Linked DNA regions of Homo sapiens. The protein of the gene in region 2 purifies or fractionates together with the protein of the main gene of each other region. This does not show direct contact. Each region holds a gene or a part of one and is shown on either strand. Other genes may lie near its edges.

Region 1 (3,500 bases), on a different chromosome or scaffold from region 2:
ATCATAGCTCACTGTAACCTCAAACATCTGGGCTCAAGCAATCCTCCTGCCTCAACCTCCTGAGTAGCTAGGAGTACGGGAACGTGCCACCACACCTAGCTAATTTTTAGTTTTTTGCTAGCAATGGCGTCTCACTGTGTTGCTCAGGCTTGTCTCAAACTCCCGGCCTCAAGTCATCTTCCCACCTCAGACTTCCAAAGTGTTGGGATTATAGGCGTGAGCCACTATGCCCAGCCTCTATTCTTACTTTTCTTATTCCCTTCTTGCTCCCTTTTATGAGATAGATAGATATATATATTCTCCCACCTCAGCCTCCCTAGTAGCTGGGAGTACAGGTGCACACCACCACGCTCAGCTTATTTTATTTTTTTTGTAGAGATGGGGTTTCTCTGTGTTGCCCAGGCTGGTCTTCAACTCCTGGGCTCGAGCAATCTGTCCACCTTGGCCTCCCAAAGTGCTAGGATTACAGGCATGAGCTACTTATGCCTGGTCTTTCACTAAATCTTGAACTCCTCGCAACCACTCACCTCACTTCCTCCGTAGTTTTGCCTTTTCCACAATGGTCATACAGTTGGAATCTTAACAGTATGTAGCCTTTTCACATTGGTTTCTTTCACTTAGTAATATGCATTTAAGTTTCCTCTATGTCTTTCCATGCTTTGATAGCTCATTTTTGGTTTTGTGCTGAATAATACTCTATTGTGTGGATGTACCATAATTTATTTATTCATTCATTTACCGAAGGACTTCTTGGTTGCTTCCAGGTTTTGGCAGTTATGTATCAAGCTGTTATAAACATCCATGTGCGGGTTTATTATTTTCTTAGTGATTACCCCAATGATTATAACTAATGTCCTAAATTTATTATAATCTTATCTTTAGTAGCCTACAAAAAACTCTTTGACTGTGCCCTTGTTATATTGTCACAAACTCTCTTTATGCACCATATACCCATTAACATAGGCTATAAATATTGTTTTATGCATTAGTCTTTTAAATCATAAAGGAAACAAAAAGAAGAGTTACTTAAAATACAGAAATATTGGCTTCTGGCCAGGCGCAGTGGCTCACGCCTGTAATCTCAGCACTTTGGGAGGCCGAGGCGGGTGGATCACGAGGTCAGAAGATCGAGACCATCCTGGCTAACATGGTGAAACCTCATCTCTACTAAAAATACAAAAAAAAATTAGCCGGGCGTGGTGGCAGGCCCCTGTAGTCCCAGCTACTCAGGAGGCTGAGGCAGGAGAATGGCGTGAACCTGGGAGGCGGAGCTGGCAGCGAGCCGAGATCGTGCCACTGCACTCCAGCCTGGGTGACAGAGCGAGACTCCGTCTCAAAAAAAAAAAAAAAATACTGGCTTCTATATTTACTTATGTAGTTAATTTTACCTGCGTTTGTCTTCCTTTTTTCCTTTCTCTCTCCCTCCCTCCCCCTCCCCCTACCCCCTCCCCCTTGCCCTCCCTGACACTGCCCCCACCCCGCCCCACCCGTCACTTCTCCCATCCTTCATTTCAATCTAAAAGGCTTCTTTAGCATTTCTTATGGGCGGGTCTCCTAGTGTCTACCTCCCTTAGCTTTTGTTATCTAGGAATCTCTTTCTTTTCTTTTTTTGAATGATAGTTTGGTATATATATAGAATTCTTGGCTGGCAATTTTGTTTTTTTCCAGCACTTAAAAAAATGTCCAACTAGGCACAGTGGCTCACACCTATAATCCCAGCACTTAAGGAGGCCGAGACGGGTGGATCACTTGAGGTCAGGAGTTTGAGACCAGCCTGGCCAGCATGGTGAAACCCCATCTATACTAAGAATACAGAAATTAGCCAGGCATGATGGCGCATGCCTGTAATCCCAGTAACTCAGGAGGCTGGGGCAGGAGAATCGTTTGAACGCGGGAGGCGGAGGTTGCAGTGAGCCAAGATCATGCCACTGCACTCCAGCCTGGGTGACAGAGTAAGACTCTGTCTTAAGAAAAAAAAAAAAAGTCCTCCTGCTTCCTCCAGGCCTTTATGTTTTGTGATGAGAAATCCACTGTTAATGTTACTGAGGATCCCTTGTAAGTGATGAATTATTTTTGTCTTGTTGCTTTCAAGCTTTTCTTTGTTTTTTCACAGTTTAATTATAATGTGTCTTAGAGTGGATCTTTTTGAATTTATTCTACTTAGATTCTTTGAGCTTGATGTGTAGGTTCTTGTCTTTCATCAGATTTGGGAAGTTTCCAATCATTTCTTCAAATGTTCTTTCTTCTCCCTCTGAGACTTTGATTTTTGCCTACATTGGTGTGCTTTATGGTATTTCTCTTAGACTCTGATTTTCTTCATTATTTTTTCTTTCTGCTCTTAAGACTAGACAAGTGCAATTGATCTACCTTCAAATTGGCTCACTTTTTCTTCTGCCTGCTCAAATCTTGTATTGAACCTCTCTAGCAAATTTTTTCATTTTTGTTATACTTTTCAATTCCAGAATTTCTGTTTGGTTCTTTTTTATAATTTTTAAATCCATATTGATGTTCTCTATTTGTAGACACATCACTTTTCTTGTTTCCCCTAGATATTTGTCCATGGTTTCTTTTAGATTTTTGAGCATCTTAATTTAGTAAGTCCAACATGTCTTGACTTCCCCAGGGTCAGTTTCTGTTAATTTCTTTTTTCTGTGAACTGACCGTATTCTGTTACTGTGCTTGCTTCATAATTCAAGTACTTCATTTCCTTAGTATACTTACTCACAAATCAGATTTTACTCTTTCCAAAGATTTCATTTTTCTGCTATATGTTGAATGTAGTTGTTTGCCTAGTAACTTTTATAATCTATTTTGTAGAGACTATTCTTTCTCATGTATTACCCCTGAGGTGTCTATTTCATTAATATATTGTACACCAAAATAAAATTCTAAGCCACCCAACTAAATGAATGGACCCCCTCCTCTCAGCCAATGGCATTCTAAAGTAAACCTGAAACACTAGTTCAGGTCGTGCTGGGAATGGGTGGTTTGGACATGCCTCATTATGCCTTCCTCCCTTTGGAATTCAGGTACTGCAGACCAGCATTAACATCAAAACAGAGACCTTAAGACTGACTGAACAGACTCTTTCAGTAGATAAGAAACATTTACAGTCTCTTCTTTCTGAAGCCTGCTATCTGGAGGTTTCATCTACAAAATGAGAACCTGGGTCTCCACAACCCCTTATCTTAACAGCACTCTTACAATACTCCCTTGTATTGATTCCAGGTCTTTAGATAAACTCTTTCTACCAGTTGCCAATCAGAAGATCTCTGAATCCACCCGTGACCTGAAAATCCCTACTTCGAGTTGTCCATCTTTTCTGGACCCAACTAATGTACCTTTTACATGTATTGATAGATGGCTTATGTCTCCCTAAAATGTACAAAACCAAGCTGTAACCCAACCACCTTGGGCACGTGTTGTCAGGACCTCCTGAGGCTGTGTCACGTATATCCTTAATCTTGGCAAAATAAACTTCTAAATTGAGACCTGTCTCA
Region 2 (3,500 bases):
GTCTCTGTTCCTGGCTTAGGATGCCGGACAGAAGAGCAGGGGCCCAGCCTGGGCTCCGTTCTCATCTGGTGGTCTTGACGACGTCTCTGGATCTCTGCCCTCTGTCCCATGCCCCACACAGGCTTCAGAGTTGGAGAGACCTGGATTCAGATCCCTCCTCTGAGGCAGTCACTTCCCCTCTCTGGGCCTTGCTTTCTTCTCTGTAAAATGGGTGTAATGGGAACACCTCCCTCCCAGGTGGTTGTGAGGATCAAAGCGGGTAAAAGGCGCTGAAGCTTGCAGGGTGCCAGGAGCTCTGAGTTCGGAGCCGGTTTATTACACAGCAAGGCCCTCTGCCCTGTCAGGGTCTCCCCACCTCTGCCCTATCCACGTTCTGGGCTGGGACATTCTGTGGCGGGGCTGTCCTGGGCACCGTAGGGTGAGTGTGAACAATATCCCTGACCACCACCCACCAGATGCTAGTAGCACCCTGTCCCCTAAGCGGTAGCAACCAAAAATGTCCCCTGGGAAGCACTGTCAACCCCGCAGTGAGAACCTTGGACTTGGCCTTCAGCCCTGCAGTAGCTCATGGTGTGCTGTGACCGTGATGGGCCTCAGCTCCCTTTCTTTCCTCCCCACTCACCCTTTAGCAGTGAGTGACTCCTATTTGCAAACTGTGTCCCGGACACACTCCTCACCTGGTTGTTCAGGTTCTCCGTGACTGTCCTTCTGCCCTTCCAGGGTGGCAGCTTCCACCTGAGAGGACAGGAGCCCCCACGGGGTCCCCTGCACGCCCTGCAATGAGGGGCAGCCCGGCATCTGTGGGGTCTTCTGGGCTGCTCTCTGGCCTCTGAGCTCCGGGTCTTCCTGGGCTGCTCTTTGGCCTCTGAGCTTTGGCAGGTCCTTGCCCAGGCTTGCTTGGCTGCCCCCAGGGGTGGCACTTCCACACCCTCCCAGTCACCATAGCCCTGACCTGTCGATTTGCCAGACAGTTTTCTTTAAGTCCATTTAAAAATGACTCACCTCTTTGATCTTGGCCTCTTCCTGAACAGTAATGTCCCCAGAGTTGTGGAACGTTAATGTGCTAGTTGCACATACTTTTATTTATTTATTTTGAGACAGAATCTCACTCTGTCACCCAGGCTGGAGTACAGTGGCTAGATCTCAGCTCACTGCAACCTCCGCCTCCCGGGTTCAAGTGATTCTCTGGCCTCAGCCTCCCGAGTAGCTGGGATTACAGGTGCCCGCCACCACACCCTGCTAACTTTTGTATTTTTAGTAGACACGGGGTTTCACCATGTTGACCAGGCTGGTCTCAAACTCCTGACCTCAAGTGATCCGCCTGCCTCGGCCTCCCAAAGTGCTGGGATTACAGGCATGAGCCACTATGCTCGGCCAAGTTGCACATACTTTTACTAATTCGCGTTCAAATGAGCTTAACCACTATATTAAAAAAAAGAAAATTTGTATCTTCCCAAATACTGAGGGGGGAGTGGATTGACGAATTGATGTTTCTTGGTTTTTGGACAAATTAATTTTCAAGCTCACTCCCTGCGTGACTGGCCTGTTCTAGGATGCTGGACTTGGTTAGATCTGGGTCCGTCTATTCCCTCCTGCTCCCTTGAGGAGCTCGGAAAATGGCCTTCCCTGTTGGGGCGGGGAACATGGGAAGTCTCTACCTCCTGCTTAGTTTTGCTGTGAACCTAAAACTGCTCTCTGAAACAAAGCATATTAAAAAAAAAAAAAAAAAAAAACTGGCTGGGTGCGGTGGCTCATGCCTGTAATCCCAGCACTTTGGGAGGCTGAGGCGGGCGGATCACCTGAGGTCAGGAGTTCGAGAACAGCCTGGCCAACATGGTGAAACCTCGTCTCTTCTAAAAATAAAAAAATTAACTGGGCGTGGCGGTGCACACCTGTAGTCCCAGCTACTTGGGAGACTGAGACAGGAGAATTGCACCGAGATCCTGCCACTGCACTCCAGCCTGGGTGACAGGGCAAGACTCCGTCTCAAAAAAATAAATAAGTGGCCGGGCGCAGTGGCTCACGCCTGTAAAGCCAGCACTTTGGGAGCCAAGGCGGGCAGATCACAAGGTCAGGAGATCGAGACCATCCTGGCTAACACCGTGAAACCCCGTCTCTACTAAAAATGCAAAAAAAATTACCCGGGCATGGTGGTGGCCGGTGCCTGTAGTCCCAGCTACTCGGGAGGCTGAGGCAGGAGAATGGTGTGAACCCGAGAGGCGGAGCTTGCAGTGAGTTGAGATCGCGCCACTGTACTCCAGCCTGGGCGACAGAGCGAGACTCCATCTCAAAAATAAATAAATAAGTAAGTAAGTAAGTAAATAAATACATAAAATAAAAAACTGGCCAGGTGTGGTGGCTCACGCCTGTAATCCCAGCACTTTGAGAGGCCGAGGCGGGAGGATCACCTGAGGTCAGGAGTTTGAGACCAGCCTGGCCAACATAGTGAAATCCCATCTCTACAAAAATACAAAAATCAGCCGGGCATGGTGGTGGGCGCCTGTAGTCCCAGCTACTCGGGATGTGGGGGCACGAGAATCTCTGGAACCTGGGAGGCAGAGGCTGCAGTGAGCCAAGATCACACCACTGCACTCCAGTCTGGGAGACAGAGCGAGACTCTGTCTCCAAAAAAAAAAAAAAGAAGGTAGTCAAAGGAGTAAAAACCAAAACAAACAAACAAACAAAAGATTTTCCCCTGCTCAGAACCTTCCGGTGACTTCCTGTTGCCCTTGGGAAAAATTCTGGGCCCTTTCGCGTGGCCCCTTCGCTCTGTCATCTGTGGCCTTGTCCTTCCTTCCTTTCCTCCCTTTCTTCCTCCTGCACCTGCTCCTTTCCTGGCACAGCCGCCTTCCCTGCCCGCCCTTCCCTGCCGCAGGACCTGTGCACTTGCTGTGCCCGCTGCCTGGTTCTCTTTCCACCCAGCCGGCTCCTTATCACTCTAGTCACTTCCCTTCCCTACTTCTCCTCCTTTGCATGTCACACGATCAGAGCTGGGTATTAGTCTGTTTGTGTATCTGTTTGTCTCATCTACTAGGGCAGGGGCTTTTTCTGGAAGGGCCGGAGAATAAATATTTTTGGCTTTGTAAGCCAGAGGTCATCTCTGTCCAGACCACTCTGCTTTGCCGTTGTAGCAAGAAAGCTCCCGTGGGCGAGTGTGCCTGTGTTTCAGTAAAACTTTATTTATGGACACAAACGTGAATTCCGTGCAATTTTTACATTATAAGACATTTTTCTTCTTTTGCTTTTTTTTTCCTCCAACGACTAAAAAATGTCAAAACCATTCTTAGACTGCAGGCTGTACAAAAACAGGTGGCGGGCAGGATTGAACCTGTGGGTTGTAGTTTGCAAATACCTGGCTAGGGTGTGAGGGCCACACTACGGAAAGCTATGGAAACCATGTCAGCCTCACGACCCCTAGAATGTACGGCAGCTCCTTAGACGTGGTGGGTGTTGAGTGGACATTCCTTGTTGAGTGAATGAATTTTTTTTTTTTTTTTTGA
Region 3 (2,289 bases), on a different chromosome or scaffold from region 2:
AAATTTAATTAGCAAAAACTGCTTTATCAATAAATGGGAAGTTTTTAAAGCTGCTTCTAGCTGTTTTACAATACAGTTTTCTGACATGGTGGCTTGCAGGTATATCAACCATTCGTGTGCACCTAATTGTGTGGCTGAAGTGGTGACTTTTGAGAGAGGACACAAAATTATCATCAGCTCCAGTCGGAGAATCCAGAAAGGAGAAGAGGTAAGAGTGTGAGAGATTGCATCTGCCATGTTGTTCAGATCCTGGGCGAATAGTTCCCTCCTCACACAGGTCACTTACTCACTTGTTTCCCAATTCTTTGTTGTGATAAAAACTCTGTCCATAATAGGCCAGATGTTCCCACCCTGCAGTATCTCACCCTTCAGGCACTCCAGTTCACCTTCCTCCACATGGCAGCTCTGTGAGCATTTGCTGTCACCTCTCCCTTCCCTTCTGTGCCACGGGTTCAGCATCCCCATGGCACCCAGGTGGTATCATTTCTGTGTGCCATAGGATCCTTCTTTATCCCCTTAACCTGGACACAGTTTGGCAGTGTCCCCTCTGAAGAGCATCCCCGTCCTTCTCCAAGGGGGCCGTGGCTCCTGAGATGGCACTGTTGGGCTGTGGGCGGCAAATCTGGGCCGCCGTGCTGCTGAGGATTGTGTGCTCACGCTGGCGATCAGTGTGTGCTTAACCAAGTGCCCACATCGCCACATTCTTCAGCAGTTCAGGTGTGGGTTGTTGTCTTCAAAATGCCGAGTGCCAAGCTTGCTGTTTGTCTCCGTGCTCTCAGAGGTGACTCTGGTCCGGCGGCTCACCCATTGGGATTATTTTTGGCCTTAATTGCTGCATTTGCTTCCCACCTTGGTCTTTCCCACTGTGATTCAGGTACCTTGGTTCTGGAATTGGCATTTCCTGGAAAGCTGTCACTGAGCAGCAGGCTTGGTTTCTGTAGGAAACGTCCCGCATTTGGGGAGTGAGGCACCTGAGTGACTTGACTTTGTTGGTGCTCCTCTCCCTTCGTGAACATAGCCATGGGATTCGTGGGATTCTATCTGTATTTTGGGTCTTTGTGGAATCTCCTTTCTTAGTCAAGAATAAGGATCCGACTAGACCCAAGGCCCGTTATACATCTCAAAGTAACGTGTAAATAAGACAGTGTGTGGGAGCCCTGGCACAGTGCCAGTAACCAATGGCTACCATGGTGGTCAGAAGAGACTCAGCCCAGGGCCACCTGCCTCCTTCCTACTTGAGTATTCTTGAGTAAATAGTTTAATATGAGCCCCTATTTTATCTTCTGCAAGATAGAGAAAATGACTTCCTTACCAGGCTCTTGGAAGGACTCAGCAGATACCTGAAAGAAAGCAGTGGAATCATTGCCAAGAACAGCTGCTCAATAAACACTGGTTTCCTTCCTTTCTGTGTAGAAGGTCTTTCCAGCTAGCGTCTAGAATCATTTCACTCAGAAGAGACCTAGAAATTCCTGGGCCTCCCCTTCATTTTGCAGCATCGGCTCTCTCTGGGGTGGTGGGGGTTGCAGGGCCGCGCACTGAGGCTTGTACCGTGGGACTCACGCAGACTCCCACCTACCTTGATTGGTCTGAGATGTTAATTTGGTGACCTCTAAATAGAAAGACATCCTTTCAGTCTTGAGTGAGGAAAAATGAAGGAGGGAAAACAGAGTTAGCTGGCAGTTCATCTCACCCAGAATTGCATGCCCCATTCAGTAAATCAGGGGAGGTGAAAGGCTTCTGGGTTTTAGGGAGAGGGCTAGGAAAGCAGTTGCCCTTCCAGTCCCCTCCATCCACTTGCAGGGACAGCATTATGAGAAGTCACAGAAATACAGCTTTCTCTGGTCAGGCTCCCGTTCTCAGATCTCGCTGTTTAAAAATACTGCCTCCCTCATTTCCTCTGTGCAAGCACAATGCCTCTTTTCAGGGTTCCCCCAGGGTCCCATGGAACCTCAATAAATCAGGTCTTCCTTAATTTACGTCTGTTTCGTTTGCTGGTTTTAAAATGCAAGGGAGATGGAGGCAGAAACGCTATTGCCTTCCTTGCTGTCCTTTCTTACCCTGTGTCTTTGCCGTGGGCAGCTCTGCTATGACTATAAGTTTGACTTTGAAGATGACCAGCACAAGATTCCGTGTCACTGTGGAGCTGTGAACTGCCGGAAGTGGATGAACTGAAATGCATTCCTTGCTAGCTCAGCGGGCGGCTTGTCCCTAGGAAGAGGCGATTCAACACACCATTGGAATTTTGCAGACAGAAAGAGATTTTTGTTTTCTGTTTTATGACTTTTTGAA
Region 4 (3,973 bases), on a different chromosome or scaffold from region 2:
GAGTTCAAGGCCAACAGGCAAAAACCCCGTCAAAAAAATTAGTCTGGCATGATGTCAAGCACTCGTAGGCCCAGCTACTCGGGAGGCTGATGCAGGAGAATCGCTTGAACCCTGCAACAGAGTGAGACTCTCTCTCAAACAAAATAAAACAAAACGGAAAAACTATTAGAGGCTGGGAGCGGTGGCTCACGCCTGTAATCTCAACACAGAGGCGGAGGCGGGCGGATCACGAAGTCAAGAGTTCGAGACCAGCCTGGCCAACATAGTGAAACCCCGTACTCTACTAAAAATACAAAAAATAAGCCGGGCATGGTGGCGTGCGCCAGTAATCCCAGCTACTCGGGAGGCTGAGGCAGGAGAATCGCTTGAACCCGGGTGGCGGAGGTTGCGGTGAGCAGCGATCGCGCCATTGCACTCCAGCCTGGGCGACAGAGCAAGACTCCGTCTCAAAAAACAAACAAACAAACAAAAAGCAAAAAAACTATTAGAGCCTGGGCAACATAGTGAAATCTTGTCTCTACCCCCCACCCCCAAAAAAATTAGCCTGGGTGCGGTGGGATGCACCTGTAGTCCCAGCTACTTGGGATACTGAAGTGGGAGGATTGCTTGAGCCTGGGAGGTCGAGGCTGCAGTGAACTGTGTTCACGCCACCGCACTCCAGCCTGTGCGACAGAGCGAGACTCTGTCAAAACCAAACCAAACCAAAACAAAAAAAACCTATGATCCGGTTTCTTGAAGCAGATCCTATGGCAAGCCATCAAGCCAGAGCGGTAAGAAGTAGGAAGATGGTGCTTTTAGATCCACTACATTCCCAGGATCAAATGTAGAACAATATTTAGTCCCTAAAGTGATTCTCTTTCCATTATTGTCAACTGCGTGGTCGGTGCAACGTGAAAGGGCCACAACTATGTGAAGGAAACACTTAGAATATAACACCAAAGGAGGCAATCGCTGCCTTAGACTTCCTAAAGATCTAAAGAACTCTTAGATGCTTGGTGAAATCGCTCTCTGCCGCTGGTGCGACTCAGGCGCGGTCGCGAGGAAGGTCCAGGGTGAACGCGCGTAGGCTGGGAGTCCGCGTTGGGGCGCTCCCTGGCTTGCAGGCCGCTCCGAGTGGGTGGGCCGGGGGCGGGGCCGGCGGCAGGGAGCGGACTCCGCCCCCGGGGCGGGTCCAGTCGGGCCGCGGCGCGTCGCTGCGCCGCACGTGTGCGAGCCCGGCCGCCGGTGAGTCGGCTGGAGCGCATCTGGTCCTCCGCGCGGAAAGCGCTGCTTTTGCCTGGCCGCCCTAGCCGCTGGCTCATCCAAGTGGCCTTCGCCGCTCTCTTGCGTCCCAACCAGAGCGCTGGCCACCTCGCCGCCCAGCTCACGCCGCGCCCGCGCTCCCAGGCTCCGGGTAAGTGCGCGGCCTCCCCGCGGCCGCCGGGGCTCCTCGGCCTGGCCCTGGCCCCAGCCCCAGCCCCAGGGCCCCGCCCCAAGAGGCAGTGCGGACTGGGAAGGCGGACTGGGAAGGCGGCCCCGCAGTGGTCAGAGCCCGCGGCGCCTCCATTATGGATCGTGCCAGCGGGAGCACGGTTGGAACCCAGTGGGTCCTGCGCTTCGGCGGTGCAGGCGCCGCTCTCCGCTCCCCGCTCCCCGCTCCGCTCTGCCCGGCCAGTCGTCCGGAGGCGCCGCGCCCGAGCGCTCCCCTCCTCCCCGCGCGGCGCTGTCCCCCGGGGGCCCCCTTCCCACTCCTCCCTTTCTTTGCCCCGGACGCTCCCTAAACTCTTGTCCCTCCGTCAGAGGAACACTGGCCCTGAAGCCCTTCACGGTGCCACTGCTTCGCCGCGCCTGCCTTCTGTGGGTCCAGCCCACGTGTTCCACCCCTGTGTCCTGCGTCGCCGCTCACTGGGAGCCTACTAGGCGCCACGCGGGCTCTGGGGACTGCTTGCTTTGTATGCATTTCCCAGAGTAGGAGTGGACGGGCTGCAGACTCAGAGTGCTTTCTCCAGCCCTCAAGCTGGGTGAATGCTTAACGAGTGGATGGAGGTGCTGCTGTGCAAGCTGAAATTCGAGTCCTCCTCGTCAGCCCTGCGCAGAGGTGTTTAGAAGCACACCTTCGTTGCCTGCCGAGTAGGGTTGGCAAAGAGTTTAGTTTTTAAAATATTTGGTCCCGTCAGACTACTTTTTTTTTCCATTCCAAAAATAAAGGGTTACTAAGGTTCCCTCCCCCCCATCCCCAAGCCTCTAATCATCTATGAAATGACTATGCCCCATTGGCCTGGGGGAGCCTCGACTATTGAGGGATCTGTCGAAAATCAGACTGTACAACACTATTGAAAAGGGGTTGGTTAGGCAATTGTTAGGTTCAAACATTAGGAAAGTAGCCAACAGTACGTACTTAACAACTCCTTGTGAACATGTTTTTGGTTTTTTTATTTTTATTTTTTTAATTTTTTTGAGACAGAATTTTGCTCTTGTTGCCCAGGCTGGAGTGCAGTTGCGTGATCATCGCTCACTGCAGCCTTGAACTCCTGGGCTCAAGCAATCCTCTCACCTCAGCCTCCCAAGTAGCTGGGACTATAGGCATGTGCCACCACACAGGGTCTCGCTGTGTTGCCCAGCCTGGCCTCAAACTCCTGACCTTAAGCAATCCTCCTGCTTTGACCTCCCAAAGTGCTGGAATTACAGGCTTGAGCAACCACACTCGGCCTTGAACATATCTTTGTTTTTTGATTTATTTTTTTTAGACGGAGTCTCACTCCATCACCCAGGCTGGAGTGCAATGGCACGATCTTGGCTCACTGCAACCTCAGCCTCCTGGGTTCAAGCGATTCTCCTGCCTCAGCCTCCGGAGTAGCTGGGATTACATGTGCACGCCACCATGCCCAGCTAATTTTTGTATTTTTATTTATTTATTTATTTATTTATTTATTTATTTATTTATTTTGAGACAGTCTCGCTCTGTCGCCCACATGTATTGCAGAGGCAGCACCTCCATCCACTCGTTAAGCATTCACCCAGCTTGAGGGCTGGAGATGTATTGCAGTGGCGCGATCTCGGCTCACTGCAGGCTCCGCCTCCCGGGTTCACGCCATTCTCCTGCCTCAGCCTCCCGAGTAGCTGGGACTACAGGCGCCCGCCACCACGCCCGGCTAATTTTTTATATTTTTAGTAGAGGCGGGGTTTCACTGTGTTAGCCAGGATGGTCTCGATTTCCTGACCTCATGATCTGCCCGCCTCTGCCTCCCAAAGTGCTGGGATTACAGGCGTGAGCCACCGCGCCCCGCCTAATTTTTGTATTTTTAGTAGAGACGGGGTTTCACCATGTTGGCCAGGCTGGTCTTGAACTTCAGACTTCAGGTGATCCACCCGCCTCAGCCTTCCGAAGTGCTGGGATTACAGGCGTGTGCCATCACACCCGGCCTTGAACGTGTCTTTTGATAGAGGCAGGGGCATGCATGTACTGTATTAATGAAGCAGCGTTTTTCCTTACCTAGGAGAGAGAGAGAACAATCCAGCTGGTCATACTGTCGACTAAGTTTGCTCCGGTTTCAGGTCCTTTACACGTGCTGTTCGGGCTGCCTGGAGCTCTCCTCACACACATCTTTTCCTGTCTGGTTCTTCCTTGTCTTTGCTCAGAAGTCTCCTCCTTAGACGAGGCATCACTGAAGAACACCCCTCTTACTCTCAGCCCCTTACCCTGTTTTAATTCTTTGGAGCTCGCATGTCCTGAGATTTATTTTGTTCTCAGATATATTCTCAAATACATTGTAAGCTACATGAGGACAGGAAATGGTATTACCCTTTTCTTCCAGTACCTACAACAATGCCAGACACATAGGACACTTGCTCAGTAAATATTTGCAGAATGAATGACCCTCATAGACTTAATGATTTTGCATATTAGAATGCAGTGTGTCTGCCGGGCCTGGTGACATCATGCCTGTAATCCCAGCACTCTGGGAGGCCGAGGCAGGCAGCTCGTTTGAGGTCA

Evidence for each region.
Region 1: the proteins of KDM4B (region 2) and PKN2 purify together in Homo sapiens (affinity purification with mass spectrometry; one large-scale study listed by BioGRID and IntAct). This does not show direct contact.
Region 3: the proteins of KDM4B (region 2) and KMT2C purify together in Homo sapiens (affinity purification with western blotting, with the first as the bait; one study listed by BioGRID). This does not show direct contact.
Region 4: the proteins of KDM4B (region 2) and PUS7 purify together in Homo sapiens (affinity purification with mass spectrometry; one large-scale study listed by BioGRID and IntAct). This does not show direct contact.

Annotation. Positions count from the first base shown.
Region 1 is NC_000001.11:88,774,773-88,778,272, forward strand, and holds part of PKN2 (serine/threonine-protein kinase N2), read left to right. Parts: intron 1-3,500. UniProt on the Homo sapiens protein: PKC-related serine/threonine-protein kinase and Rho/Rac effector protein that participates in specific signal transduction responses in the cell.
Region 2 is NC_000019.10:4,972,113-4,975,612, forward strand, and holds part of KDM4B (lysine-specific demethylase 4B), read left to right. Parts: intron 1-3,500. UniProt on the Homo sapiens protein: Histone demethylase that specifically demethylates 'Lys-9' of histone H3, thereby playing a role in histone code. Does not demethylate histone H3 'Lys-4', H3 'Lys-27', H3 'Lys-36' nor H4 'Lys-20'.
Region 3 is NC_000007.14:152,136,715-152,139,003, reverse strand, and holds part of KMT2C (histone-lysine N-methyltransferase 2C), read left to right. Parts: intron 1-99; coding exon 100-208; intron 209-2,079; coding exon 2,080-2,172; 3' UTR 2,173-2,289. UniProt on the Homo sapiens protein: Histone methyltransferase that catalyzes methyl group transfer from S-adenosyl-L-methionine to the epsilon-amino group of 'Lys-4' of histone H3 (H3K4).
Region 4 is NC_000007.14:105,519,472-105,523,444, reverse strand, and holds the start of PUS7 (pseudouridylate synthase 7 homolog), read left to right. Parts: upstream 1-1,173; 5' UTR 1,174-1,393; intron 1,394-3,973. UniProt on the Homo sapiens protein: Pseudouridylate synthase that catalyzes pseudouridylation of RNAs.